2 linked regions of the Homo sapiens genome follow. The protein of the gene in region 1 purifies or fractionates together with the protein of each later gene. This does not show direct contact. Each region holds a gene or a part of one and is shown in the gene's direction. Other genes may lie near its edges. The genes, in order: IGDCC4 and SLC39A10.

The links.
Region 2: the proteins of IGDCC4 (region 1) and SLC39A10 purify together in Homo sapiens (affinity purification with mass spectrometry; 2 studies listed by BioGRID and IntAct, with this or other methods). This does not show direct contact.

The regions. Positions count from the first base shown.
Region 1 is NC_000015.10:65,415,507-65,431,581, reverse strand, and holds the start of IGDCC4 (immunoglobulin superfamily DCC subclass member 4 precursor), read left to right. Parts: upstream 1-8,634; 5' UTR 8,635-8,719; coding exon 8,720-8,789; intron 8,790-9,179; exon of another isoform or gene 9,180-9,527; coding exon of another isoform or gene 9,528-9,636; intron 9,637-12,012; exon of another isoform or gene 12,013-14,733; intron 14,734-15,731; exon of another isoform or gene 15,732-16,075.
Region 2 is NC_000002.12:195,658,628-195,674,438, forward strand, and holds part of SLC39A10 (zinc transporter ZIP10 precursor), read left to right. Parts: intron 1-13,029; exon of another isoform or gene 13,030-13,093; intron 13,094-15,811. UniProt on the Homo sapiens protein: Zinc-influx transporter. When associated with SLC39A6, the heterodimer formed by SLC39A10 and SLC39A6 mediates cellular zinc uptake to trigger cells to undergo epithelial-to-mesenchymal transition (EMT).

The DNA.
Region 1 (16,075 bases):
TTTTGTATTTTTAGTAGAGATGGAGTTTCACCATGTTGGCCAAGCTGGTCTCAAACTCCTGACCTCGGGTGATCCACCCACCTTGGCCTCCCAAAGTGTTGGGATTACAGGTGACAGCCACCACGCCTGGCCTCTACTTCTTAAAGGGAAGAATGTCAAATAACTTGTAGACATACTCTAAAACCACCACGGTGGTGGCTTCGGTTATCTAGTCTAGAATGATGTGAGTACCATGGACCCCCACTGCTGGTCTACAGAGCAGGTCATCCATAAATTCTTGATCTAGAGTCAGAGAGCCAACAGACATTTTAGAGATTACTCAGGTAAGTGCTTCCCAATGTTTTTTTGATGCTCAAACTCCATTCACAATAATGTGCTATCTTGTCCCCTGCTTAGAGATTTAGAACTTTCATCATTTTTGGCCCAGGCATCTCAAGCCTGTAATCCTAGCATTTTGGGACGTTCGAGGTGGGAAGATCACTTGGAGCCAGGAGTTTAAACCCAGCTTGGGCAGCAAAGGGAGACTGTCTCTCCAAAAAAGTCAAATAATAAAATAAATGAAATTTTCATCATTTTTGCATGGTTTATAATAAAGAATTAACTTTTAAAAACCATTCATTCAGAAAACATTCACTGGGATTTTACTATCTTCTGTGCACTGTGCTAGATGCCAGGGAGATGGGAGGACACATGGTTCCCACCACAATGAGCTTACTGTCTAGCAGTGGAGCCAGACAATTTAACAAAGGATGATAATAAAGTGTCCTCAGTGCTCTGATAGGAGAAGTACCAGCTCACAGAATACTTTGTCTGGTTCTGATCTCTCTGCTTAGATTGAAACGGCATTTCCAGGCCAGGCGCTGTGGCTCATGCCTTTGGCTCACACCTGTAATCCCAGCCACTTTGGAAAGCCTAGGCAGGCAGATCACCTTGAGGTCAGGAGTTCCCTGGCCAACATGGCAGAACCCCATCTCTACTAAAGAATACAAAAATTGGCCAGGCACGGTGGCTCATGCCTGTAATCCCAGCACTTTGGGAGGCCGAGGGGGGTGGATCACTTGAGGTCAGGAGTTTGAGACCAGCTTGGCCAACATGGTAAAACCTCGTCTCTACTAAAAATACAAAAATTAGCCAGGTATGGTAGCCTCCCAGCTACTTGTGAGGGTGAGGCAGGAGAATCGCTTGAACCCGGGAAGCAGAGGTTGCAGTGAGCTGAGATCGCGCCACTGCACTCCAGCCTGGTGAATACAAAAATTAATCAGGCATGGTGGCAGGCGCTTGTAGTCCCAGCTACTTGGGAGGCTGAAACACGAGCGAGAATCGCTTGAACCCGGGAGGCAGAGGTTGCAGTGAGCCACTGCACTCCAGCCTGCGTGACAGAGCAAGACTCTGTCTCAAAAAAAAAAGAGAGACAAAAAACAAAAAGAAAATAAACGGGCCGGGCGCGGTGGCTCACGCCTGTAATCCCAGCACTTTGGGAGGCCGAGGCGGGCGGATCACGAGGTCACGAGATCGAGACCACGGTGAAACCCCGTCTCTACTAAAAATACAAAAAATTAGCCAGGCGCAGTGGCGGGCGCCTGTAGTCCCTGCTACTTGGGAGGCTGAGGCAGGAGAATGGCTTGAACCCGGAAGGCGGAGCTTGCAGTGAGCGGAGATCGAGCCACAGCACTCCCGCCTGGGCGACAGAACGAGACTCCGTCTCAAAAAAAAAAAAAAAAAAAAAAAAAAAAGAAACGAAATGAAACGAGAAAAACAAAAAAGAAACAGCATTTCTAGCACTTTAATGCTGTCACTTGATGCCATACAGGGCCCTCACACTCAACTTGTTTAAAAGGCCAATTCACTTCTCTCTCCTCGGTTCTGCTCCTCCCCCATGTTCCCTTCATTTAGTAGTATCCCATCCACCTAGTCAAACCTACAAGAATTCTAGCCCTGTCCCATTCTCTTAACCACTACATTGACCTGTTCCCAAGATGTCACTTCTGTCCTAGAACTGTCTCAGGGAAGTTAAGAAAAAAAATAACTTTAAAACAACATGTTAGGCCGGGCGCGGTGGCTCACGCCTGTAATCCCAGCACTTTGGGAGGCCGAGGCGGGTGGATCATGAGGTCAGGAGATCGAGACCATCCTGGCTAACAAGGTGAAACCCCGTCTCTACTAAAAATACAAAAAATTAGCCGGGCGCGGTGGCGGGCGCCTGTAATCCCAGCTACTCGGGAGGCTGAGGCAGGAGAATGGCGTGAACCCGGGAAGCGGAGCTTGCAGTGAGCCGAGATTGCGCCACTGCAGTCCGCAGTCCGGCCTGGGCGACAGAGCGAGACTCCGTCTCAAAAAAAAAAAAAAAAACAAAACAAAACAAAAAAAAAACAACATGTTAATTCAAGGTAATTTTAATATATTTAAATTAAATTGATTATTTTAAAAACCCTGTTCCTCATTTAATAAATGATGCATGCCTATTTTAAAGTAATTAGGGGCCACGCACAGTGGTTCATGCCTGTAATCCCAGCACTTTGGGAGGCCAAAGCGGGCAGATCGCTTTGAGCCCAGGAGTTCAAGACAAGCTTAGGCAACATAGTGAGACCCTGCCTCTACAAAAAATTCAAAAGTTAGCTGGGTGCATGCCTGTGGTTCCAGCTACTAGGGAGGCTGAGACGGGAGGATCACCTAAGCCTGGGAGGTTGAGGCTGCAGTGAACCAAGATCGCGCCATTGCACTCCAGCCTGGGCAACAGAGCAAGACCCTGTCTCAAAAAAGAAAGGAAGAGAAGAAAAAGAAAAAGAAAAAGAAAAAGAAAGCATCATTTGTCAAAAAACAAATAAATATATATATAATTTATATATATATTTGTGGTTTGAGGACCAAATATACAACGAAATATAATAGTGTGGGCCAGGTGCCATGGCTCTCGCCTGTAATCCCAGCACTTTGGGAGGCTGAGGTGGGCGAATCACAAGGTCAGGAGTTCGAGACCAGCCTGGCCAATGTAGTGAAACCCCATCTCTACTAAAAATACAAAAATTAGCCGGGCGTGATGGCATGCACCTGTAGTCCAAGCTACTTGGGAGGCTGAGGCAAGAGAATCACTTGAACCTGGGAGGCGGAGGTTGTGGTGAGCCCAGATCACTCCAGTGCACTCCAGCCTGGGCAACAGAGCAAGACTCCATCTCAAAAAAAAAAAAAAAAAAAAAAGGAAAAGAAAAAGAAAAACAAATTAATAATAGTGTGTTATAGGATCAAAAACAGACAAAAATTGCTTTTATAATATGGTTGCCTTTTGTGCTAAATATTTTAAATTTTCTGAGTTTTATTTCTGAGATGTGAAATAAAAGATTTTAGGATTTATTGGGAAGTATTCCCCACAAAAAAAATATATTGTGGATATGGATGATTTGTCTTTCCAGTAAACAACAAGCCAAATTAGATTCAGTTGTCCTTAGATTTTGTTTTTTTTTAAACATCGTTTTTTAGGCCAGGTACAGTGGCACACTCCTGTAATCCTAGCACTTTGGGAGGCTGAGGCAGGCAGACTGCTGCTGAGCTCAGGAGTTTGGGACCAGCCTGGACAATCTGACGAAACCCCACCTCTACAAAAAAATATCAAAATTAGCCAGGTGTGGTAGCACCTACCACTGCTTGGGGGCTGCTGAGGTGGGAGGATTGCTGGAGCCCAGGAGGTTGAGGCTGCGGTGAGCTGTGATCATGCCACTACACTTCAGTCTGGGAAACAGAGCAAGACCCTGTCTCAAACAAACTAACGAAAAATAAATTTGGTTTTTGACCTGTCAGTGACTGAGTTTTGTTTTATTTGTTTGTTTATTTTTTCTGAGACAGGGTCTCATTCTGTTACCCAGGCTGGAGTGCAGTAGTGAAATCTTGACTCATTGCAACCTCTGCCTCCCAGGCTCAAGCAATCCTCCCACCTCAGCCTCCCAAGTAGCTGGGACTACAGGCACACACCACCACACCCAGCTAATTTTTTTGTATTTTTGTAGAGACGGGGTTTCACCATTTTGCCCAAGCTGGTCTTGAACTCCTGATTTCAAGAGATCTGCCTGCCTTGGCCTCCCAAAGGGCTGGGATTACAGGCGTGAGCCACCATACCCGGCCTGTCATATATTTTTTATGGTCCCACATGGCTATAAATTAAACAGTGTATAAATGACCAAGTATGAAAATAAGTTAAAGCTGTTTAATGATAAAAACCATGACAGTGAACCATGTTTATCTGAGCATGTTCCTCGACCCTCCACTAACCACCACCCTGGAACACCCCATACACCCTTGGAAGCTTTCCATGTTACCAGCTGAAAGAGGAAAATAATAGAATATTTTATTATTGATTTTTTTTTTTTGAGACAGAGTTTAGCTCTTGTTACCCAGGCTGGAGTGCAATAGTGCCATCTTGGCTCACTGCAACCTCTGCCTCCCGGGTTCAAGCGATTCTCCTGTCTCAGCCTCCCGAGTAGCTGGGATTACAGGCATGTGCCACCACGCCTGGCTAATTTTTGTATTTTTAGTAGAGACGGGGTTTCATCATATTGGTCAGGCTGGTGTCGAACTCCTGACCTCAGGTGATCCGCTCGCCTCAGCCTTCCAAAGTGCTGGGATTACAGGCATGTGCCAGCCACCATGCCCAGCCTGATTGATTTTTAAAAACACATTAAAACAGGTGCTATATCCACTTTTAATGTTGTGAACTCTTTGGAACTGGTTAGAAATGTGCATCATACCCCAACCCTTTTGTCTCAGTGATGAAACTGAGGCCCAGAGAGAGGATGGAAGTTGCCCAAGGTCATGCAGCAAGTCTGTAACCAAGGCAGGACAAGAACTATGGTTCTTACTCCTGCTGGGCTTGGCTGGCCTGAACCTGTAACTCTATCCCTCCTCCTCTCACATTTACTCCCTACCCAGAGCCCATGTAGTGAGATATGAATATAGATAAATTAATTAGATTTTTGTATGTGGCTGGTAGAATTAGTCTCTCTATATGGCAACACCTTGTTCATTCATTCAATTGACAAATCAATTGCTTTCTAGATAACATATGAGGCCAGTCCATCTGGCCCTGGCCTCCCTGTTTGGCTTCATGTCCTGCCCCTGCTCCCCTGCCCAGTCCACACCTCCTGCACTCTGCTTACATTGTCTTTCCTGTAAGACTTCTCTGCTTCCCCCAGGTCTGGCCCGAGTGCCCCTCTTCCCTGTACCCCATCACAGACTGTATCACACTTGTCCATCTCCCTCAGTAGCCTAAGCACCATTCAGGCAAGATTCCTCTTGTTCGCCAGTCTGCTCCCAGTGCCCAGAGCAGGGCCTGACCCATAACAGGTACCCCTTGAATCAATGATTGGATATGCCATTTCCAGGCAGGAAGAGCACACTTCCCTGTGCTCTCACAGCCCAGGGCCTCTGCAGAGGGAGTTTCTTGACCACCCTGTCAGTTCTAGCCTTTTAAATTGTCCAGACCCATGTCAAACATCCACAGGTCTGGCCCGAGTGCTCCTCCTCCCTGTACCCCATCACAGACCGTATCACACTTGTCCAATCAATAGTTCTGTGAAGCCTTCCTTCTCAACCTCCATGTCCCCCCACCCCACACACGGTAAATCCCTCCTCCTTTTGTTCCATCCTCCCTGCCACCCCATGCCACTTAGGACACTACTATCCTTGTGGGCAGGGACTTGTATTTTTTATCCAGGTCCCCTGGCACCTACACAGTGTGAGATACTGATTTAGGTGCTTAGCATTCAGCAGTGAACCTAGCAAACAAAAATCCCTGTCCTCATGAAGCACACATTGTGATTGTGAGGGGTGGGGGAACAGATCGAAAATAAGTAAAATGTAGAGCATATTAGTAAGTTACAAGTGTTGGCCGGGCGCAGTGGCTCATGCCTGTAATCCCAGCACTTTGGAAGGCCGAGGCAGGTGGATCACCTGAGGTCAGGAGTTCAAGACTAGCTTGGCCAACATGGTGAAACCCCGTCTCTACTAAAAATACAAAAAATTAGTCGGGCATGGTGGCAGGCACCTGTAGTCACAGCTACTCGGGAGGCTGAGGCAGGAGAATCTCTTGAAACCAGGAGGCGGAGGTTGCACTGCGCTGAGATCGTGTCACTGCACTCCAGCCTGGGCGACAGAGCAAGACTCTATCTCAAAAAAAAAAAGAAAGAAAAAAAGAAAGTGACAAGTGTTGGCCAGGCGTGCTGGCTCACGCCTGTAATCCCAACACTTTGGGATCCAAGGCAGGTGGATCACTTGAGGTCAGGAGTTCGAGACCAGCCTGACCAAATGATGAAACCCCGTCTCTATTAAAAGTACAAAAAGTTAGCTGGGCATGTAGTCCTAGCTACTTGAGAGGCTGAGACCCAAGAATCACTTGAACCCAGGAGGCGGAGGTTGCAGTGAGCCACTGCCCTCCAGCCTGGGGGACAGAGTAAGACTCTGTCTCAAAAAAAAAAAAAAAAGAAGAGAAAAAGAAAGAAAATAAAATAAAAAAGAAAGTGACAGTTAAAGACAAGAATAGACAGCAGGGAAGGAGGATAGGAAGAGTAGGGGGTGAGGCTGTGAGAAAGCCTTTATGGTATCCAGTATGAGGGAACAGATCTCTAGACTTGCACTGGCCGGACAAAGGTCTTGAGGCTGGAGGGGAGGAGGCTGCCCGCGATCAAGTTACAGCAAGGAGGATGGTGTGGCTGGAGAGGTGGTGAGCACAGGGGGTGGTGTCGAAGGGGAGGTCAGAGAGGTAGAGCAAGCCTACAGATCAGATAGGCCTTGTGGGTCACAATAAGGACTTTGGCTTTTGCTCTGACATAGGAGCCGCTGGTGGGTTTCTAGCAGAGAAGTGGCATGATCTCATTTTAACAGGAGCACTCTGGCTGCTGTATTGAGAAAACACTCAAGGAGGACAAGGACAGAAAAAGATCAGTGAGGAGTTTGCTGTGACAATCCAGGTGAGAGGCGACGGGTCTTGGACCAAGGCCACAGTGAGAAAGTGGAGGGTGAAGCATCTGAACATGAAGAGTAGGAGATGACTCTACATTTTTTTTTAATAGAAATGGGGGTCTCGCTATGCTGGCCAGGTTGGTCTTGAACTCCTGGCCTCAAGCGATCCTCCCACCTCGGCCTCCCAAAGTGCTGGGATTACAGGCGTAAGCCACCAAGCCTGGCCTCTACATTTTTGACCTGGGCAACAGGAAAGGAACTGAGATGAGGAAGACTGTGGGAGGAGAAAGATTGATAGAAAAGATCAGGATGAGTTTGTCTACTAGACAGCTAAAGGAACTGGGGCCTGGATGGCTGGATACAGAAGTCCAGGGTTCAGGAAAGATGGTCTAGGCTGAAAGTATACATTTGGGCATCATTAGCATAAAGATGCTCTTTAAAGCCTTGAGGACCAGATGAGATCACTAAGGGAAGCAAGTGTTTCAAGGAAGAGGGAGTGATTCACTAAGTCAAATGCTGCTGATAGGGCAAGTGAAGATGGGGCGTGGCAATGAATGAATAAACGCCAGGCCTGTTAGATATGCAAAGCGCCAGTGATTATTGAGGGTTAACTGACAACAGACAGGTGTAGAGACAAGATGGCTCTAAGTCACAGGAACACTTAGAGACACAGGGAAGGGAAGAACTATGGCATCTTGGAGTTGGAAAGGACCTTAACTAGGTCATTGAATCTGTACTCTTTTCCCCACCCTAGCCTGACAATTGAACCCTTGGCTGTAGAACAAGAAATATTTGCGGGATACTGAGGCAAACAGTCTGGCTAGGTAGGTTAGAGAAAGTACCGTTGAAGAATGAGAAAAAGGGTACTTCAGTAAATGCTGGACAGCAGAGGCAGGGTGAGGGAGTGGAGATGACCTTCCGAAGTCAGAAAACCAAGGTTCAGGTCCTGTATCTGCTGCTCCCTAGCCTCCTGTCCTTGGGCAAGTCACTTCACCTTCTCCAGCCTCAGTTTCCCCATGCGGCGACATCTGAATATGGTAGTGCTTGAAGGTAGTGTAAAAGTGTCCTGCCTGTGTTAGTTACTGCCAGAGCAAGGGAAGGAGGCCAAGAGAAGCCCTTGGTTTGGGATGGCAGATAGGACTATCAAGATCTCCGCAGGTGGGCTGGCGCAACGTGTGGAGAAGCGAACCAGCATTCAGGCCAGGACCTGGGCTGGAATGGACTGGGCTCGGGTGGCAAGGGGGCCATCTGGACAAAGACCGTGGCCCTGAATCTGCCTCCCCTGAGCCTGGAACGGAGGTGGAGACCCCGAGGCAGCAACAGGGAGAAGAAATAGAGACGCTGAGGCAGAGAGACCAGAAGACTCAGAGACGGGGAGACTAAGAGACAGACCCAGCAACAGGCGGCCTCACGGGGGCCCGCGGCGACCCGGAGAGGGCGAGGCACCGGGACACAGACCCGGGCCGAGAGGAGCCCCCGCGAGGCGCAGGGCCGTGGCGCGCGGGCGCAGGGTCCCCGGCGGGGCCAGGGTGGCCACACTCGCCGGGCGCCCCCTCCCGGGCCGCTCGCCCAAGATGGCGATGGAGGGGCGGGTGAGGCGGCAGCGGCCCTGGCCCCCGCGCCGGCCCCAGCTCGGGCCCGGGCCCCCGAGGCCGCGCCCCCGCCCGCGGCGCCGCGCCTCCCCGGGCCACTGACGCCCGGCGCGCTCTCCCCCCGCGGCGGCGGCCGAAGCACGGGGAGGCGGCGGCGGCGGCGGCGGCCCGAGCCCAGCCCCATGGCGCGGGGGGACGCCGGCCGCGGCCGCGGGCTCCTCGCGTTGACCTTCTGCCTGTTGGCCGCGCGCGGTAAGGGCGGGCGCCCGGAGAGGCAGGAGCGACTGCGGAGTGCTGGTGCGCCCGCGCCCTGGTCTGCATCGGGCTGCGGGGCTGGCTCAAGCCGGAGTCCCGAGCAAGTGCGGGGGCTGCGCGTCCAGGTGCCCGCGATGCCTGCGCGGGGGTCTGCGAGCTGCGGCCGGGGGGCGTTTGTGGGGCGTGCTTGTCCGCAGTGGGTGTGTGCCTTTGGTTCGCAGAGTCTGGAGTCGTGTGTGTGTGTGTGTGTGTGTGTGTGTGTGTGTGTGTTGGGAGTGCTCCTGTCGTGTCCGCAGTGCGTGCCATGGTCGCGGCGTGGCATCGGCGGGGCGGGTAGCTGCGGTGTCGGTGGCTTTCGCGGGGCGGGCTCTGCCTTGCCTGCGCGTGTCTTGGGTTGAGAGTGTGTGTAAAAGAGGAGGGAACTGGGGTTGTGTCTGCACCTCCATTTGGGTCGGGTGCGTGTGCAATTGTGTTTATGGGGCTGAGCTAATATTTGGCCTTGGCATTTGGGAAGTGTCCTTGCCCATAGTGGGGGACAGAGCGATGGATCCCGTTTGACTGGGGGTGGTGGTGATAAAACAACACTCAACTTTGCCCAGTGGGTGTGGTCCCTGGGGCCGGTTAGAGAGGGGTAGAGGGAGGTGTTGCTCCCCAAAACCTGTGGCCAGCAGTGGACTGGGGGAGGGGGCAGGAAACCATTTGCTTTCGTGGACATGTCCAGCGCTTGTTCTCACGATGGGACGCGTGTCACCCCGGCCCCACCCCCCAGGGACCGACCAGGGAAGCGTGGACGAGGTCAGCAGGGCCTCATCCAGTCCGCAGCCCAGTGCGGAGTGGGTACGGGGTAAGTCAGAGTTGTCCAAGCTGGAGAAAGGGCTGGGGAGGGGATAGCGAAGTCCCCAAGGGTGTGTGTCTAGGGCTGCGGCTTCCACCCACAGCTCTGTCGCTTCCTGTCCGGTGTGCGTTTGGGGGCGGCTCATGGGGAGTGTAGGTGGCAGGGCTGGGAGGGGGATGGGCTGGCCGCTTTGTTCGCCTAGTTCTTGCCTTCCCCGCGGAGGGGGGAGCTGAGGATGTGTCCGGGGAGAGTCGGGGAGGGACTTGGAGGTGGGGGTGGGGAGGGGGATTTCTCTCCAGCTGCTGCGGCTTTCCAGAGAGACTCAGCCAGGCCACGTGGGAGGGAGGCGGGGGGAAGGAGCCTCCGCCTGGCCAGCCCCAGGCCCATCTCCAGGAAAACCAAACAGCGGGTGGGAAAGTGCCGGGAACTCCTCGGACCCCTTCTGTCCCTACAAAGACACGCCCCTTTCCAGCCCCAACAGCGGATTAAGCTGGAGGCCGCCGCGAGGCTGGGTCTCGGCTGCTGGGCCAGAGGAGCTGGAGGCCCTGGCTTGTCAGGTGAAAGGGGCGGGGAAGTGTCAGAGAGAGGTCTGTCTTCCCAGAGCTCAGGGGATTAAGGAATAGTTCCCCTGCCCCACCTTCCGCTATTCCTAGGGCTCCTGGAACGAGCTCAGGGTCACCCAGCTAAACGGCATCAGGGCTGGGAACCGCACCGGCGCATTATTCAATACCTTTAGGACCTGCCGCGAGGGACCCAGCTTCCCTGGCCTCTCCCTGCTCCCGAACGCACAAAGCAGGCGAGGGACCGAGTTGCGGCGTCTCTTGGTTGCAGTGTGAGTGGCTACAACAGCTTGCCCTGGTCCTCCAAATCTCAGCAGGCCGGGGGACACTCCAGTCGAGTCATGACTAGCCACCCTGATCTGTACTGAGGTCATTCATTCGTTCAACAAATATTTATGGAGCACCTTTTATAGGCTAGCTTGTGCCTAGTGCCTAGAATATAGTAAATAAGGAGGCAGACCTGATCCCTGGTGCAAAGCTTTCAGTCTGGTGGAGGGGGAAACTGACAAGTCCCCTGAAGTGCTGGGGAAGACGCAGGAAGGAGGGGCTCCTACACCGATCTGGGAAGGTCAGCAAAAGCTTCCTGAAGAAAGTGATGAGTAGTAGAGCTCGACATGGAGTTAGCCCTGTAGAAGGAGAATGATGATGGGGACAGTTTTCCAGAGAACAGCATGTGCAAAGTTCAGAGGTGATTTAGTTGAGATCATTGGATTAAACTAAATCTAGCTGGAGTTTAGGGACAAGGGGTGGATGGGGGGCAGGTGAGGGAAGCATGGAAAGGGGTCAGGGAGTATCAAGACAGGAGGCTGAAGAGGGGAGCTAGATCCAGCTCACAAAGGGCTTTACAGGGCCCACCAAGGTTTCTGGCCTGAGAGTCCCCATGAGCCCTTGACAGGATTTAAAATCAGCTTTGCATCATCTCATTCCAGCCAGTGTGGAGGATGGATTGGGTGGGGCTGGAGGCAGGAAGCTCCAGCTCCTTCGAGGCTGTTGTAGCAATCCAGAAGAGAGGATGGTGGCAGCTAGCATAGTGGCAGTTGGGGTTGGGCTGGAGTGGCTGCATTCCAGAGATTTTCAGGAAATAGAATCAGTAGAACTTGAGGATAGATTGAATTTGTAGGGGGCGAGAGAGAGGAAAGTAAGAAATAGGCCGGGTGCGGTGGCTCACGCCTGTAATCCCAGCACTTTGGGAGGCCAAGGCGGGCGGATCACGTGAAGTCAGGAGTTCAACACCAGCCTGGCCAACATGGTGAAACCCCATCTCTACTAAAAATACAAAAGTTGGCCAGGTGTGGTGGTGCATGCCTGTAATCCCAGCTACTCGGGAGTCTGAGACTCGAGAATCGTTTGAACCTGGGAGGTGAAGGTTGCAGTGAGCTGAGATCACGCCACTGCACTCCAGCCTGGGCGACAAAGTGAGACTCTGTCTCAAAAAAACAAACACAACAACAACAAAAAAACATGAGGCAGAATGAAGGGCTGGTATTGGGGTTAGGATAATGCCTGTGCCTGCCCATCTCCTCCCAACACTGTTCTTGAGTCAGGGACTGGGACCCCTTTGTGAACAGGTGGCGAGAAGCCGAGCTCTGTTCTTATCACACGCACAAAGGTGGGGCTCTCGGCTCTCCCTTCTTCCCAAGTCAGAATTTGGAGGGTAGGGAACCTAGAGGTCAGTAATGGGAGGCCTCTAAGAACTTGAGAGCTTTCTCCTCACCTGGGAACTCCTCACCTCCCCCATCCCTTTCTCAGCCCAGAGGCTCAGAGGCCAATCTCAGTCATTTGGGGTGGGCCTCTTTCCCCATCTTGGAAGTTAGGAATCAGGTCAAACAGTTGGAGTTTCTTTTAATAATGAATCTTATCCAGAAGATACCTAAACCTTCATTGATCCTCTATGTGCTTTCATGACTCAATTAAACACACATTTACATGTTAATTAGCATTTCTTTTCTCCTAAACATATCTCTTTCAAGTGAAGCAATTTCACAATTAGCGCATCATTGAATGTCAGCACTGAGAGGAACTTAGAAATAATTTCAGGCCAGGCTCATACCTGTAATCCCAGCACTTTGTGTGGCTGAGGCAGGAGGATCGCTTGAGCTGAGTTTGAGACCAGACTGGGCAACATATTGAGACCTCATTTCTACGAAAAATTAAAAAAAAAAAAAAAAAAAGCATGGCGGTCATGGTGGTGTTCCCTGTTGTCCTTGCTGCTCAGGAGGCCGAAGTGGGAGGATTGCTTGAGCCCAGGAGTTCAAGACTGTGGTAAGCTATGATGGCTCGCACCACTGTTCTCCACCCTGGGCAACAGAGTGAGACTCTGTCTCAAAAGAAGAAAGAGAAAGAAAAGAAGAAACAATTTTAGCATGAACCTGTTTTTACAGATGAGAAAACTGAGTGACTTCCCAAAGTTACATGATTAGGGACTGAAATGGGGCCACCCTTTCTAGGGATACCCAAGTTCACTCTCTTTGCACTCCTCTATACCTTCTGAGACGTTATCAGCTTCATGCTCTCCCTCTCAAGTGGGTCTATCTGGGCTCTGGAATCCACCCTCCTCCACTTAACCCCCCCCACCTCTTTCTATTCTCTCCCATGGTACAGCAACCAGACTTGATACGGAATTCCAGATGCAGAGCAGATGTCATTACCAGGCAGGCTTGGGGGCAGGGGGAGGAGTAAGCATGGCTCTGAGGGAGAGGACCCCAGCCTGGTCAGAGGTGGGTGACAGGAGCTAGGGGGCCAGGGAAGGAAAACCAGAGAGTATGTTTTGGAGCCTGACATGCAGAGAAATCAAACCCTGTTACCTGTGCCAACTGGGCTGCCAGCTACTACTGCCTCACTGCTGAGGCTGAGTGAGGTATCCTTTGGATTTGGGGGCCCATGGGGTCCTTGGGATCAGGGAAGCAAGGACCAATAAGCTGTCCTTCAGGTGCAGACCCAAGACTCCTGGATGGTTCTATAAGGGACTTATGACCTTGTTAGATAGTTTGCAGGACAAAGCTCTGGCCAGTGAGCAGAAAGTACTGGGAGAGACAGGTGGGCACAAGAGAAATAAATTTTTTAACCATATGAGCCATACAGCAAGAGAACAGGCAAGGTAGTGATCTCCCCAGCCTGGTCATGTTTAAGTACAGGGTTTCTTTCAGTGTGGACTTCAGCTGTTCTATCTCTGCTTTTCAAGCATGTCATGTCTACTGGGTGCCACGCAGTGTGCTAGGCAGTTTCCACATGTCTTCCTGACATCCTTTCTTGCCCTGAAGGGAGTTACTGTTGTTTTTACAGATAAGGAAACTGATGCTTGGAAAAGCATAGGGGGCTCTATGCCTTATCTTTTTGAGGATGTCTTCATGGGTTCACTCATCCATTCAAGAAATGTTTATTGAGCACCTACTGTGTGTTAGGCACTGTTCCAGGTACCGAGGATTTAGAAAGCTAAGACATAACCCCAAGACTTTGGTGCCTAGTTGAGGAGAAAGGCAAGTCAAAAACCTAGAGTGAAGGCTGGGCATGGTGGCTCACTCCTGTAATCCCAGCACTTTGGGAGGCCAAGGTGGGCGGATCACTTGAGGTCAGGAGTTCGAGACCACCCTGACCAACATGGTGAAATCCCGTCCTACCAAAAAATACAAAAACTAGCCAGGCATGGTGGCGCACACCTGTAGTCCCAGCTACTTAAGAGGCTGAAGCAGGAGAATCACTTGAACCTGGGTGGCAGAGGTTGCAGTGAGCCGAGATCATGCCACTGCACTCCAACCTGGGTGACAGAGTGAGACTCCGTCTCCCCCCGCAAAAAAAATCTGGAGTGATAACTGCGATGATGGGGGTGCCAGCGTTCTACGGGGCAGAAAAAGGAGAGGTGTCTAAATCAACCAGGGACATCACAGCTGTTCTAGGGAGTGAGAGCAGCACCAGCAATGCGTGGAACAAGATGTGTTTTCAGAGAATTGGCCATGGTTTGCTGTGTGTGGAGGGGTAGAGGGTCTCAGGGGAGCGGGAGATAGGCAGGTCAAGCTGAGCCTGGCTTTGCTGTTGGATAGGCTGAGGCTGAGACTCTCCCCTCAGGATTGCAGATGAAGGGAGAGCTGAGGCCTTCCTTGTGTCCCAGGCAACTGTCCCAACTCTCCTTCCAGCTGTTGGGGGGAGGGGCTCAGCATGTGGTAAGGGAGGTGGCCAAGGTTGGGGGCAGGAAGGAAGGTTTCTGGAAGGAACCGACTTGTGTTCTCTGGGAAAGGAGAATGGTGATGGTGTCGTGGAGAATTTCTCCTGGGCTGCAAACAAGTAGTAAATCTGTTGGGCCCTGAAATTCAGAAGTGAGGAGGCACTGATGTGATGTTTGTGGCAAGTTCCTGGCTTAATAAAGGAGCCATCTTGGCCTCGTTGTTCCCCTCCCCCAGCTACACGCCCCTTCCCTAAGAATTCACTGAAAAATGGAACTCACGCCAGGCCTCCACTAATCCCACGAAACAGCATTGAGCTGGCCCTGGAGCTCAGCAGCGAATCTCCTTTCTGTCTGGGTTCTAATTGGCCTCATAAAATCCAGTTTATCCTGTAAGTGGGTAAAATAATCTGTCAGAAAAAGGAGATTGAGAGGTGGCCCTAGGGTTCCCAAATGCAGCAGCTCTGTGTCTCTGACAGGGTCTCACTGAGGAGATTGAGGAGAAGGGATTATGGGAGGGGTGGCCCCCTCAAGACAGAAAGCCAGCGGGCAGCAAGTGTCCACTGGGCACCTGCAATGTGTCCACCCCGGCACTGAGAGGGAGGGCTAAAAATGTTGGGGGTCAGCCATGACAGTGGGCTGGGGGTGGCAAGTAAGCGCTGGCCATGAAGCTCCTGGACAAATAAGGTCCCCTCCCCAGAGCATCGCTTTTATGAAAAGATTTGGTGGTATGGGAGCCACACTTATATTAAAACAAATATTGCTGTGTTATGGAGCAGAATGCAAAATGTGCTAGAGGTTTGGCCGGGCGCGGTGGCTCATGCCTGTAATCCCAGCACTTTGGAAGGCCGAGGCGGGCGGATCACGAAGTCAGGAGATTGAGACCATCCTGGCTAACACGGTGAAACCCCGTCTCTACTAAAAATACAAAAAATTAGCTGGGTATGGTGGCGGGCGCCTGCAGTCCCAGCTACTCGGGAGGCTGAGGCAGGAGAATGTCTCGAACCCGGGAGGCGGAGCTTGCAGTGAGCCGAGATTGCGCCACTACACTCCAGCCTGGGTGACAGAGCGAGTCTCAAAAAAAAAAAAAAAAAAAAAAAAAGTCAAAACATTTTAGGCAGTCAGCGAGCCTCGTAAATATGTGTTCCTCTGCTGTTGAGAGAATTTGGGTGAAAACGTTTGAGAAGTTTGGAGACTTCTCATTTTAAAATTGGGGAAACTGAGGCTGAAAGGACAAAAGTAGCTCACACAAGGTCATGCAATGAATGACTGGACTTAGAACCCAGGACTCTGAGGCCAGGCTTGTCCCACCACACCCCCTTGTCTGTCTAGGCAAGAGTAAGGGACCTGCAAGTGGTTTTCAGTGTGAGACTTAGGAAAAACTTTACCTGGGGAAGGTAGGAGCAGCCTCACAGAAGGGCTGGCACGTGAGTCCCTAAGGATGCGCTTCCTGGGCACAGAAATCAGGTTGAGCACAGAGGCAGAGAGAACCCTCTTATTCAGGAGCAGTTGTCTCCTCAATGCTGGTTCATCCCCAAAAAGTCAAAGAAGGGCAGTTTTCCCAGACTGTCTTCCACAGAGATGAGACCCCTCCCCAGGCCTCAGTTTCCCCATCTGTGGAATGAGGATTCTCAGGCTTCACAGACGTTTCCACTAAAATGGGCTGTCTTGGGCTCCTGGCACAGCACTGCTGCTCTCTGAGGGGGACCCCGTCTTCTCTCTGTGTCTACGT
Region 2 (15,811 bases), on another chromosome or scaffold:
AACTTAGTATGCAATTGAAAGCCTCAAGTCAAGACTCCTGTGTATTGTTTTGTATTAGGACTCTATTGTACAAATATTTGAGTACCTTAATATGAGTCAGTTACTTTTTCTAGATCTTGGATCCATGCCAGACAACGCACATTCTGCAGACACTGGTTACTCCAGTGGCTCCTTACTGGAAACATATAATATCAGTGATAAGTGCTGTGAAGAAAATAAAACAATGATGTGCTGGTATGGATTTTTAACTTTTTTATGTGATGAACCACAGAATGATGGTTTTAAATGTATGAAATACATAGAATTGCAACAGAAACCAGTTATGAAATAATGAAGATATTAAATATGACATCTATATTTTAGTAAAGCATTAGTGAGGACTGTAAATGATCTTTAAAGAATTTGGCTTAAATTTAATCTAAAATTGCTATCAGGTATTTCACATCGCTGTAATTTTTGCCTGCATTCGTAACTGAAGAGATAAGTAAATGTCAGAGGTTAAGATAAATCTTTTTCTTTTTTTACCTGTCCATATTTACAAACATTCTGCGTTCCGTACATAGACGCCTGGATAAGAACCCCTGTGCAAGAATGACTTTGGTGCTACTTTAAAAAAAGTGGTTGGGGAAGACCTCATAGGAAATGACATCAATAATAGATTGCATGATAACCTATACTAGTTCTTACTGTTACCAATTTAAATTCTAACTGCTTAAAAGCTAACACGGTCCTTCCCTTTTTTTGAGCACCTGATTTGAAGTACTTTGAGTAGGCCTCAAGTGTCGTATGCAAGTACTAATCTAGGGGGTGTGCCTTTTTCAAAAGTGATTTTTGGAGAAGATAGGATGTAGTATTATAGCAAGGAAAATTCAGCATCTGGGATGATCATTTCCTTCTGATTAGAGAAATTTACCTTGTTAATATTCTGTTCACCCAACCCTTCTACCCTCAGTGTTGACCAATACTGGAAAAAATTTAGGGCTTTGGAGTGAAATTTTAAAAGTTCAAAACCTTGATCTATTAATTAGTTTGCTTACCTTGAGGAAGTTGCTTATCTTAATCTTCTATTTGAACTTCAAGTACAAAAACCCTACTCACGGACTTAACTGTGACCATTAAATGAGATAACCAAAAGGCTGAAGATGATAGTGAGTTGATTTTACCTTTTTTCTACATACAGATGTTTCAGTTCTTTCATTAGTGGTTGAAGGTCTGCGTTCTTTTTCTCCCTCCACTCCCTCCTTGACTACCCCCAGAATGAGCTTTGATGGTCTCTACTGGGCCTTTGGGGGGGATACATTATCCTGTTGTTTTTGTTCTGTTACTTATATATAATACTCATGGATTTATTTCTACTTCTCTTCCATTTTCTAATTTATAATAACATGTGCATCTTGTTTTCCCTGCCAAACTAAATTTCGTGAGGGGGTACATACTGCACAGTTTTTTTTGTCACATACTGCTTATGACACATGAATATGCAGAGCTTGTCAAGCTCTTTAATTAAGTTTAAAATGCTAATTGAGTGAATCAAAACTTAACCATTATGGTTAGGCTAAAAATGTCAGCTTGTGTTTATATAGTGCTTACCTCAGTATTGGAAATGCCATGAGTTTAGTATCAGAAGGACATTATTACTAGTGCATTTTAAAGTGATACCAGTCATAGTTGCAAAAGAAAGTACACAATGGGAAATGGAAGAGAAATGTAGGGAATCAAAACAACTAGTTTTTTCCTTTATAACGGAAGTTTTATAATTCATCTTTTATGTAAGTGTAATTCTCATTAAAAATACCCTAAAGCTTAAAGTTTGCAAGGCTGCCCAGCCTAACCCACAACAGTTTGATGCTGCCCCCTAGCGTTTGATTCCCTTCACCTTTTGCTAAAATAAGGTAATGTTTAAATTACAATTAGATTTACTTACTGCTGTAAATCTGGTCTATTTTAGTTTCCTCTGGGTAGTTAGTGTTGCTAATAAGATGGACGTAAGTGTTTTTGAACTGGTGAATTCTGATTGCTTTTAGCCCCCAGTTTTCCAAATAGGGGTGAATTTTGGGTAGAGATAGAACAATCACCAAGTTACCTTGCTCCAAAAAAGAAATTTACGTATGGGATTGTTTTCAAAGCGGGAAGTTAGCTGTGTAAATAACAACAATTTTATATATTTAATCTGGGCTTCTCCTTATCTTGAATGATATAAAAATCTACTTTCTAGATTAATTTAGTTCCATATAACTTTGTATTGCTTTGACTGTACTGATAATAAAGTTTGAAAGTGTTAAATTTACATTGTGAGCTTTTTTTTAAAATTCGAATTTATTTTCTATGACTTTTATAGAATGATTCTTAAAAAATAGTTTCAAGGACCTCTTCATAGCCACAAGATTTCCTTTTTTATATCATTAATATTATTTTATGTGAATACTATAATGAAACCCAAGTATTCAGTTTACACACAGATATTATAACACAATATACCACTACACAAAGGCAATGAACAGATAACATTCTACAAAATCTACTTTACAGAAAGGATTTTCTGTAGTCAATGCAAACTCTTAAGGTTTTAGGTTTTATTTAGATTATTGCAATATCAGTATTTCAAACTCTTTTTTTTCTTTTTATTATCCCTTATAAGTTCTATGGATAGGCCACAGGATAACTTTTAGCTTTTTCTAAAATATCCAAACATATTCTCAATAAAAAATTAGTGGAATGCTTAAAAGTATAGTAGGTATGAAGAAATATAGAATCAAAATTACAGTTTTAAATAATAGTATGTATTTATTTATATAGAGACAAGGATCTTGCCATGTTGTCCAGGCTGGTCACAAACTCTTGGGCTCAGGCAATCCTCCCATCTTGGCCTCCCAAAGTGCTGGGATTACAGGCATGAGCCACCGTGCCCAGCCAGTAATACTAAATTATTTCCAAATTAACTGCTTAGGAGACCACATACAATGTTCAGACATGTTAAAACAGGACACAATTCATTGTATCACATCAGTAATTCTGTGTCGAATACTGTTTTCCTATCAGAACGTAAGGGTTTTTTTGGATTGCCAGATACAAGGAGTGGTTATTTAATAGATTTTTAATGGTAGATATTTTTATGTTAAAAGATGTTAGAATAGGATGCTACTGGTGATACAGGTTTGCAGGCTTGTACAAGTATAAGGACAAAATCTAAAATCTTGCTCAGGTAGTGTTTATTTTCACAATCTAAAAGTAAATATTTTGTCATAACCTTTTATAATCATGTTTTATAATTACTCATTTTTAGATACTGCTGAAAGGGAGGTATCAGATAATACTTATCCTTGTATTAATATTTCTAATCAATTTTACCCTTTTATATACTCGACTTTGGGGGACAGCCCATCCCGTTAAGATTTTTAGGGATTAGAAAAGCAAGAATGTTGTAGGATGTATCCTTATTAATATCATTATGTACTTCCATAGGACGAGAAGTATTGTTATAAGAACTGTGAACTACGAAGGAGGTTAATTTTAATCCTCTATAATGAAGATTTAATCAGTGATCACTTTAGGTTTTAGATTTTCATTGAATAAAGGAAGAAGAAAAACCTCAGTCACTTTTAGTGTAGTAAGAACATCAGAGATATGTATCCTACTGTGGTGTTCCCTTTTTTTTTTTTTTGTGAGACAGTATCTCTGTTCCCCAGGCTGGAGTGCAGTGGTGAGATCAGGGCTCACTGCAGCCCTGACCTCCTGGGCTTGGGTCATCCCCTTACCTCATCCTTCCTAGTAGCTGGGAATACGGGAGCGTGTGCCACCATGCCTAGCTAATGTTTTGTATTTTTTATTGTAGAGACAAGAGTTTCACCATGTTGCCCAGGCTGGTCTCAAACTCGAACTCAAGTGAGCTACCTGCCTTGGCCTCTTGAAGTGCTGGGATTACAGGCATGAGCCACCGTGCCCAGCCTATGCTATTACTTTAATATCTATAAATAAAAAGAAACAATTTCAGATATTCCTTGCCTTCCCACCTCTAGGCTTTTTTCTAAATTCACTTTTATATATTTGAATTTTTGAGTTTTAAAATAGTGGTTTCCCCTATAATTGTCTGCTGGATTGGCACTTTAAAAAAAAATCTGTAAATTAAATTTGGATCAGCAAACTATGGGCCAAATATCCCTGCTTCTGTAAATTGTTGGAACAAAACTTGCTTATTGATGTGTGTATTGTCTATAGCTGCTCTTGCGGTAAAATACTTTAGTAGAAAAATGTTCAGTCAAATGATCAATTCATAGGTAATGTGAATTTGCAGGTGTTCTTTACCTACATAGTAGAGAAGCTTTTTGTCTCTTTCCGCTTTCCATTTTTCCTCTGCAGAGGGAATTATGCTTTATTATGCTTGGAGTCGGAAAAGGAATGTGAAGCCCTTGGCCTTCAACTGTTGGTTACCACCGAACTGTCACACTGTTTGTAGCTACTTATGTAGCTCTCTCACAGTTTACCTTTTCTAATTGAAAAGCTGATTGTGTCTTCCTTGTAACTCTCTCAGAGCAGGAAATGGATCATATTTTTATGCCGCCTATGTCTCATGTCTTCTTTCCCTTCCCCTTTCCCTCCTATCTTCTCACTCCCCTCATAAAGCAATTCAAAACTGCATGCTTACAGGCCTTTAAACAAATATTTTGGTATATTAACTCAGTGCACTTCTACTGAAGATGACTCCTTACATTATTTTGCTTGCATGTGAAGAAATATACTTTGCACTGTGTTATAGAGGAACATAGCTTCTTGATGAAAGGGGCTAGGGAAAGATTTATTTAAATACTTTATCAATATAAATGAAACAATACATGGTGTGTTACTACATTATAAAATGAGATCAGTAAAACAATGTAAGAAAACGTAATAATAAGATAGTATAATATACACATAACGTATTCTGTGTATATATACATTATAAGGCAGTGAGATCATGTTTTCTATTCCCATGGACCTTTTTTAGAAAAGCATATCATATTTTCATAATTTTTTAATGTTTGGAATATACTGTTTTTAAGATTTTGATTTTATGGTGTTTCAAGAATATAGAAGTTATGAAAAAAAAAGAAATAAGAGAAAAGTAAATTGTATATTAAAACAGAAAAAAGATTTGGGTTTTAAATTAGGATAGTCTATAGTTTTTTTCTTTTTTTTTTTTTCAACTTTTATTTTAGATTCAGGGGGTACATGTACAGGTTTGTTACCTGGGTTATATTGTGTGATGCTGAAGTTTGGGGCATGAATGATCCTGTCATCCAGGTACTGAGCATGGTGCCCAACAACTAGTTTTTCAGCCCTTTCCCTCCTCCTTCTCTCCCGTTTTTTCCAAATAAAGTGAATAATTGAATGTATATAACATCTTATGAAAGCACATACAGTGTACATATAGAATTTATTTTCAAGCAAATAATCATGCCAGTTAAAAATTGAAAATCAGAAAGGTATGCTAAAGTTAAATCACTGAAATATATTAAGAAAAAAGTTCTTTAAATTCACTGTAAATATAATTTCATGGAATATATAATTTCTAAAACAAATTCTTAAATCTTTTTCTGTGAAGATTTTTGCGTAAACACAAGTACTTAAGGTTTTTTAGTTAACTGATATGTGTGTGAAAGTGTTGGATGTTAGTGCAACTGACATTTTTCTTTTTCCTAAAAAAGAAATAGATGTTAGGGGTTTTAGTTTTTTAGGAGTTATTTTTAATTATAGCTTTTCTTTTAAAAAAAAATAAGAAAATATACACTAAAATATGGGGAGAAAAAACTTTTAAAATTTAGCAGCAGTCATAGAAGAAATTGCAGAAACCTTAATAAGTTTCATTGCATGTACATGAAAACATCTATACATGAAAGGGAAAACATGATCAAAATAAAAAGGAACAGAACTGCAGGGTTTTTGCAGAAAATGTGACTGAATCATGTTATGTAAAAGCTCATATATGTTGGAAAAAATATTGAGACATCAGGAATAACTTTAAAAATATGAATTAAAAATAAAGTAAGACCTTTTATTTATTTAAAAATTTATAATAATGTGAATGAGAGTGCTATGATCATACTGCTGGTGGCAGTATAACCAAGCTTAATTTCTCTAGAAATCAATTTGGAAAGTAAGTATATGACAAAACCTGAAAAGTGTTAAAGTTTTTATAGTTTTTCCCCTCATCTTGGAATTCATTCGAAGCAAGTAATCAAAGATAATAGCACAAATTGGAATTAAAATGTTTGCATATTGTGTTTCAGACTGCAAACAGGCTGGGTGCAGTGGCTCACACCTGTAATCCCAGCACTTTGGGAAGCCGGGGTGGGAGGATTACTTAAGGCCAAGAGTTTGAGACCATCCTGGGCAACATAGGGAAACCACCATCTCGACAAAAAATTTAGCCCAGTGTGAGGTCGGGCACGGTGGCTCACGCCTGTAATCCCAGCGCTTTGGGAGGCTGAGGGGGGCTGGATCACCTGAGGTCAGGAGTTTGAGACTAGCCTGGCCAACATGGCGTCTCTATTAAAAATACAAAAATTAGCTGGGTGTGGTAGCAGGTGCCTGTAATCCCAGCTACTTGGGATGCTGAGGCAGGAGAATTGCTTGAACCTGGGAGATGGAGGTTGCAGCGAGCAGAGATTGCGCCATTGCACTCCAGCCTGGGTGACAGAGCGAGACTCTGTCAAAAAAATGAATAAATAAAATTAGCTGGGTGTGGTGCTGCGCACCTGTAGTCCCAGCTATGTAGGAGGATGGCTTCAGCCCAGGAATTTGAGACTTCAGTGAGCTATCATTGCACCACTGCACTACAGCCTGGGCAACAGTGGAAACCTGCCTCAAAAAATAAATACTTGAAAAACCCACAGACAAATGCTTGTGAAAATCTTAAAGCTAGAATTCATTTTCTTCCACATGTGACATTATTTTATTGGTTTGTCAACTAAAATTTAATTTATAATTGCCAACTTTTAGGTTTTTTTCAAAGTTATACATGAATATAGTTTAAAGAATCAAATAGTTGTGTGAAGTTTCTTGGGGGGAAAAATCAGTCCCCTGTCTGTTCCTTTCATATTCTGCCTAGAGAGATAAGGAACCCCTTAATTCCTTTAGTTGATTATTTTGCTATTCATTACCATGTCTCCAGATAACATGTTCATTACTTGCAGCTGATTTTCAGTTCTAACCATTATCTATTTAATGAAGAATGATTTTAGTGCTCTTTCACTTCTGTGCATACCTTCCTATTTCCTGTACTCCAGTTTCTCCGTACAATTTTCATTGTAATTTTGGTTTAGAACAGTAATTGGGGTTACATTTTTATGCTATAAATATTATTTTATACAATGTGCCATTGTAATAAATGACTACTTTCCTGCACAACTTTGTTTTTTCTGGTAATAATTAGCTTGATTTTTTTGTCCTTTTATTTAATATGCATATATTAAAAGACCCCAGCTCTGTGTTTCTGAATGTAGCTATATAAGAAAGGGGAATGTGGTCAAGACTCTATGTTCAAGAATTTTATGTAGTTTTAAAAAATTAATTGGACAGAAAGCTCCCATGTTGGGGAATAAGTAGCCTCTGTGTTGTCTGAAACATAAAAAAAGTCAATGTTATACAAAGATTGACTTGGAGATTTTTTGATTATTTTTTTCCCATGACGTCATGGAAAAGAAGGATCATTTTAGCTGGCAGTTTTTACAATGGCAAGCTGGTATAAAATCAAGGATGTATAACAGTGACAAGACACTGAAAAAGGGAAGGGTGAAAATGCATGGAATAATAAAGATTTGAGGTAGTGCAGCAGTAGCTATTTTTAGAATAAAGACAGCTGTCAGTGATGAGTGGAAAGAGAACAATAAGCTGTTGCCAGGCTGGAGTATAGTGGTACGATCACAGCTCACTGCAGCCTTGACCTCCCGGGCTCAAGTAATCCTCCCACCTGAGCCTCCCAGGTAGCTGGGACTACAGGCATGGGCTACCACACCTGGCTAATTTTTAAAACATTTTCTGTAGAGATGGGGTTTGGCCATGTTGCTCAGGATGCTCTCAAATTCCTGGGCTCAAGCCATATGCCTGCTTTGGTCTCCCAAAGTGCTGGGATTACAGGTGTGAGCCACTGCATCTGGCTGGTTAGCACTGTAAGTCTGCTTCATAATGCATGTAACTAAAATCATAAACATTTTAGTAGCTTCAAAAGACATCCCAACGACTGCATTTACTAATCTCAGATGTTTGTATTCACAAATAGCAGAACAGAGGTAGCAATATTACAGGTAGCTTTCTCCAATATGGTTCCAGGTTCCCTGTAATGAAAGGCTGAAAAGCAGAAATGCAGGTAATTGTTTTGACATTTGATGAGAAAATGTAGGTTTGTACATGAATGTATAGAATACAATAAAGATAGATATGATGTGTTGTTGATTGATTTGATACTTTAAATCAAGGTATAAATGTTTATATTCTCTCTCAAGTTAGTGAAACAGGAGAACTGAGTTAATGCCCAAGCTTAATTAGCATGCACTTAACTTTTTACATGAATGAATCTCAGTGGAAAGATTGGGTTGCCTGAACTGTGCTTTTATTTATTTATTGGAAGAGTTGCAGTGGCATTCCAAACTGTGAATATGATTTCCAGTAGATTAGATAGCTGGTGAAGTAGGGGGATGAAAAAGCAAACCATGAAGCTGTAAGAGGATTTTGTGGTCCCTGCTGAGAACTCATTACTAAAATACTTTTTATCCCTTGAAGAATATTCTAATGTCAGTGAAACTGGTAAGGTGTAGTGAGTCTTTCCAACTTCTGCTCAGATACTAGTGAATTGGGTGCCTCCTGCAATCTAGAGCAGGTCTTGGATGTGCTAACGATGCATGTGCTCTTGTAATATTTTGTTAGCATTCTTTCAAAAGAGTCACAACAGAGAGACTCCTCCCCCTCCACCATACTTTTTGTAATTTAAGTGAAAGATACATAATACTACATCTAATAATGGTAATACCTTAGGTTAATATATTTAATTGCTTTACAAAGCAGTTTCGTATACATTGGTTTATTTGGTGGATAAGTGTAGGTATTATTTTCCCTGTTTTGCAGAGAGAAAACAGTGGCACAACCGGGATGAACTAGAGACAGAGGTTTCTGATTCCTGGTTCTGTACTGTATACAAAATACCACATTTAATGGATATACGAGAAGTAGGGACAGAACTCAATTTATATTATTAATAGCTTGCACTTAAATAACATTTAAATATTGCAAATAATGTAGGAAAATTAACAAATATTTTACAAAAATATGTACGTAATTTTATTTTGTTCTTATAGTTACCATAAAATAGAACAGAAATTAACAGTCCCACTTTATAAGTAGTAATAAGACTTAAAGTGGTTAAGGGACTTGCTCAAGGACTCATAGCTAATAAATGGCAGAGTCAGATCTCTAACATCTTTGACTCCTAGGCTAATCTATCTTCACTATGCACACAGCCTCACTGCTTCTCTGTTACTCTGTGTGTGCCATTACTGAATCACAGAAGGAAACTAAATTGATATTTGACTACCTACATTGCTGTCAAGATAAAGTTTGATAAAGCCATTCAGTCATATAGATACCAGCTGTGTTTATATGATTGAGGCTATAAAACTGATTTCAACCATTTAAAGTAGTCCTGTAATGAAACTTTTAAAAAATGAAGTCCTTTATGAAATTAGGAAACTGTATATACATTTATTGAATAGATTTTCACATTAAGTTTACTTAAAACATGGTATATTATCCAGGATGAGGGTTTTAGTGATTAATCTTTTGGTTTCTACCTTATTTACCTTCAGAATAGCAATCTGGAACACTGAAAAAGCTTGCTTTAAAACCTTGCTAAGCAACTTATAGTATCTTTCCCCATCATTATTAGCATATTTTGTGTGTTTGTGTGCATGTGCACATGTGCATACACACATGGGTATGAAAGAAAGAATTGCGATACAGATAATAACTTCTCATTCTTTTATTTGGTCTTCATTTTCCTTTAAAAAAATACTCCCTAGAGTAAAAAGAGGTTTTTGTTGTTGTTGTTGTTTGTTTGTTTTTTGGTTGTTGGTTTTGGTTTTAGTGAAATGAGTTAAGTAGATTACACACAGGCAATAAGTACTAAATTGATCGGGCCGGGTACTGTCGCTCGCACCCAGCACTTTGGGTCACATCCCAGCACTTTGGGAGGCTGAGGCGGGTAGATTACCTGAGGTCAGGAGTTCAAGACCAACCTGGCCAACATAGTGAAACCCTGTCTCTACTAAAAATACAAAAATTAGCCAGGCAGGCGCCTGTAATCCCAGCTACTCAGGAGGCTGAGGCAGGATAATCCCTTGAACCTGGGAGGCAAAGGTTGCAGTGAGCCGAGATCGTGCCACTGTGCTCCAGCCTGGGCAACAGGGTGACTCCCTCTCAGAAAAAAAAAAAAAAAAATTACTAAGTTGATTGGCCTCTCCAGCAGTTGGAACTAGGATTATTTTAGTATTTATCTGCTATTTTTCTTACTATGTCAGACAGTCATTTTGTTAAGTAATCTAAATTTATTCACAATGTCTTGGTTTTTTCTATTGAGTAAGTAGTATTAGGAGACAATTTCTTTTCCCTTAAAAAAAGTCTTTGTAGTATATTTTAGATGACTTTAATAAAGATCTCACAGTGTTCTGGTTTCAAGATACACAAATATGCTACTGTAGTAGACTAAAGAGCCCCTGTCTTTCAAGTCAGAGAAATGCCACAGACTTGAAATAACAGCTTAATCACGTTAGATACCTTTTCTGGGTCTTAGATTCCTTGTACATAACATTATTTAGCTAAATACACCTGAGGATTTTTAAAATCTCAAACATTCTACATTTTTATTATGTTCATCTATATGAAATAAAAAACAATCTAAGACAAAATATCTGTAGGAAGATTTGTCATGTTAACCATTTGTATATATTCCTACTGAACTTGTTATTTAGGTGTTTAATTTTATTTAAAATTTTTAAAATTTGTAGCTTGGCATTTTACACATTTCAAAACTACAATCCAAAGCCTATAGTTAAGGTTTTTGTAGGCTGGGCACGATGGCTTACACCTGTAATCCCAGCAGCTTGGGAGGCTGAGGTGGGGAGGATCCCTTGAGCCCAGGAGTTTGAGACCAGCATGGGCAACATAGTGAGAGCTCATCTCTATATGAAAAATAAAAATGAATAAATGTCTTTAAAAAAGGTTTTTGAGCTGGGCGCTGTGACTCACACCTGTAATCCCACCACTTTGGGAGGCCAAGGCGGGTGGATAACAAGTTCAGGAGATCAAGACCATCCTGGCCAACATGGAGAAATCCTGTCTCTACTAAAAATGCAAAAATTAGCTGGGTGTGGTGGTGTGTGCCTGTAGTCCCAGCTACTCGGGAGGCTGAGGCAGGAGAATCGCTTGAACCCTGGAGCTGGAGGTTGCAGTGAGCGGAGATCATGCCACTGCACTCCAGCCTGGTGACAGAGCAAGATTCTGTCTCCAAAAATAAAATAAAAAAGTTTTTTGTAAGCTTTTACAGGAGAAATTGCTATGGAGAATATCAACCCTAATTCCTTTTTTTTTTTTTGACAAAAATAGTATATATTTATTATGTACAACATGTATTTTGAGACATGTATACATTGTGGAATGTCTAAATTGAGCTAACAAATACATTATCTCACATACCATGTTTTTTTGTGGTGACAACATTCAACAATATAGACCATTTCACAAATTTGCATGTTATCTTTGTGCAGGGGCTATGCCAATCTTCTCTGTATTTTTTCAATCTTGGTGTATGTGCTGCTGAAGCACACACCCTAATTCCTTTCATTTAAGGATCTAGTTAACCTTTCTCTTAAGTATAACCATGTATTTTGTTAAGCAATATCTTTTTATTACAAAAATGCCATTTTTTTCTGGTTAGAAAATTGATTTTCTATTACAATATTTTTTAGAGTGTGTGTAAAACCTGATGAAATTTGAATAAGGTTCGTAGTTAATAGTATCGATGTCAGTTTCTTGGTTTTGAACATGTACTACAGTTATGTTAGATGTTATTGGGAAAAGTTGGGGAAAGAGTACATGGAAACTCTGAACTAATTTTACAACTTCTTGTGAATCTTAAATTATTTCAAAATAAGTTAAAAAAAGCACATTTCCCTTTGCGTATTATTAAGTATGGATGTGTTTCTAGAAATTATGTGTTACTGATTTTACTAATTGAAGGTTGGAATAAACTTCATGTGGGGAATAAAAATTAAGTTTTGGATGAAATATAACACAGCTACAGAAAAGTACTCAAATGTTAAGTGTAAAATTCAAGCAGTTTTCATGAAGTGAAGTGCAACCATGTACCCAGCACCCAGGTAAGGAAATAGGACATTAATAGGAACCCAGAATTCCTCTCATGATTCTGCCCAGTCACTCCCCACACCAAAGTATAATCACTTCACTACATATTTAGTTCTGGTTTTAGTCTTAAATACAAGAGAATATTAGTGAACTTCATTTTTTCTTTGCATCCAAAGCAAAATATTTGCATTCAAAATAGTATAATAATTAGCACAATGATTAAGTTCCTAACTGTAAATTAGCCCCACTCTTAATGCAGAAATTATACAGTGATAGAATACTTAGGCTTTTAACTGTGGTTATGTATTGGAAATCAACAGCAAAAGATGAAAATAAATTTGTTGTGGCACTGCTAGTTATTTACCGGAATCCCTTTTCCCATTTCTTGTCAGTAGCCTCATCCATTGATGTTGACAGCACCTAGCAGAACTCTTCAGTAGATGTAACTCAGCTGAACTGAAAAAATATTATCAATTATAAAACTAACATATTCTTAATGCATAAAACTTGGAAAACTCCAAAACACAAGAGACATAATAGAATATTTTGGCTTGGGCAAAGCTGTGTCCTATAAATGTCAGTTTTTAGGGTTGAGTGGTATATGGGCTTCTACCATTTCCCCCATTCCTGTCTCCATCTCAGAGATCCTCTTTGTGCTGTCGATGGAAAAGATTGTTAACATCTACTGGAATGCTTGGGAAACTCTGTAAGTTGGTGAGACCCTGGCCTCCTAGCCAATTGAGATCATGTGACTAACCCCTTGCCAATGGAATGTGATGAGAAGTGATGCCTGCAACTTCTACTTCCCTTGATACTGAAGAAGAAACTTCTGAACCTGGACTTCCATTCTTTCTCTTTCCCTGTTGGCTGGAATATCAACTATGTAAGAATGTTATGTCTCTGAATGACTGGAGCGGAGCTGCACTCAGACCCGGAGCGGTCATCTTTTTTTTTTTTAATGTCCAAGTGATTTAATATGGAGTAGTCATCTTCAACTGTTATTGAGAGAGACAAAAACTTGCCCATTTCTTAAACCACTGCCTTTTGAGAGGGGTCTCTTTGCAATCAATAGCTGCTTAGCCTGTGATAACAAAATGCATATTTCATCTAAATGATTTTTTTTTTCTTTTGAGACAGGGTCTTGCTCTGTCACCCAGGCTGGAGTGCACAGCACAGCACGATCTTGGCTCACTACAGCCTGGCCCTCCTGGGTTCAATCAATCCTCCCACCTTAGCCTGTTAAGTAGCTGGGAGTACAGGCATACACCACCACACCAGCTAATTTTTTACTTTTTTTGTAGAGATAAGCTCTCAGTATGTTGCCTAGGCTGGCCTCAAACTCCTGGGCTCAACCATCCTCCTGCCTTGGCCTCCTACTAAAGTGCCAGGATTACAGGCATGATCCACCATACCTGGCCTAAATGATTCTGAAAGCATACATCTGCTATAGTAGTTCTAAACTAAAGTTGCAAAGTTAGTGAATGATTTACTTTAATAAATAAAAAAAAGCACAGGTTTAGTATTACCTCATAACGTTGCTTGTATCATTGTATTCCTATATTCTCTTAAATGTAAGTGATTAGAGTACTCAAGATACTTAAAATCTTTTCCATAATAGAGTATGATGTATTTAAAAAGTAGAGACAAATGACGTTTTAAAGCTTGTGTAAACCATCTACAGCTTTTGTGTTTCGTGGAGTCATTCATTTGATGATGTCTGATCAATATATATGAATGTCCTGTTTCCACCTCTGGTACCTATTCATTTGACAGTGAGATAACATGCATTAAAGAAACCTCATGGTATTTACATATCAGCTGAATGAAGCAACACTCACACCTTTAATTAGCATCTTCTAGTGGAAAATCAAGGTAACTGCAGGGAGTGTAACAGGGAGCTAAAGGAATATGTATCTTCCTTTGCTTAACAGTGGTCTTAATCACCCACGCCTTTTTATCTTCATTAGTGTACGAGTAAAATTGATACACCGTTTAAATGGTGACTTTATCCATGAGACTGTGAGATTAAAAAACATCTCAAACTTAATGCTGCTTTGGAATTGTTTTATAGGCTATTTTAAAAAATGCTTAACCTATATATGCCATATATGATAATTCAACTTAATTTATTCAGATAGATCATAACATTCAGTTGACTAAACTATTATTTATTAATTTATTTTGAGACAATGTCTCTTATTGCCCAGGCTGGAGTGCAGTGGCAAGATCAGGGCTCACTGCAGCCTTGACCACCCAAGCTCAGATGATCCTCCTACCTTGGCTTCTGACACGCCACCATGCCCAACTAATTTTTTTTGTATTTTTTTTGTAGAGATGGGGTTCTGCCATGTTGCTCAGGCTGGTCTTGAACTTGCGCTCAAGATCCGCCAACCTCTGCCTCCCAAAGTGTTGGAATTGCAGGCGTGAGCCACAGTGCCCAGCCCAAAGTATCATTTTAGAGAAATGGAAGTGTTTGGTAATTTATTTGTATAAATAGGCACTCTCAAATGTTGTCTAGCTTGCATCAAACTCACTAGAAAGGCTGGATAAGTCATTGCTAATTTATATGTGTAAATAGGCACTCTCAAATTTTGTGTAGCTTGCATCAGACTCACTAGAAAGGCTGGATAAGTCATTGCTGGGTCCTATCCCTAATGTTTCTGTTATAGTAGGTCTGGGTGGGATGCAGGAATTTGCCTTTCAGATTTCTAGCAAGCTTATGCTGCTCTCACAACCACAGTTTGATTAACCACTGATGCAGGTTATGTGGTATCTTTTCAGATTTATAGAAAAGTACACAGAAGAATAATCAAGCACCTGAATCCCATTATCTTGCTTTAACAAATATTAAATGTTTTATCATATTGCATTAGATCCCTTTCCCTTTTTTAAAGAAATAACACACTGCAAATGCAGTTAAATCTGTGTACTTCCTCTATCAGCTGATTTCCCTCCTTCCCTTTCTGAGAAGATAATGACTCCAGAATGTAATCATCCCATGTTCTCTTGCTACATGAATATATACCCCCAAATAAGTAATTCTGCATGTTTTAAGATTGTCTGTAAATTATACAGCATGTATCTTTTTGCAATTTTAAAAATTATATTTCTGAGATTATTGCATGTTAATACAAAGTCCTTCATAGTCACATTTATAACTGCAGTGTAATCTTTAAATAAATATACCATATTTATTTATTCTAATGATGAGCATTTAGGTTGTAGCAGGCAACATAATGGTTACACAGCTGACCACTTTTCCTTATTTTATTTTATTTTTGAGACAGAGTTTTGTTCTCGTTGCCCAGGCTGGAGTGCAATGGCATGATCTCGGCTCACTGCAACCTCCGCCTCCTGAGTCCAAGCGATTCTCCTGCCTCACCTTCCCGAGTAGCTGAGATTACAGGCACCCGCCACCAGGCCT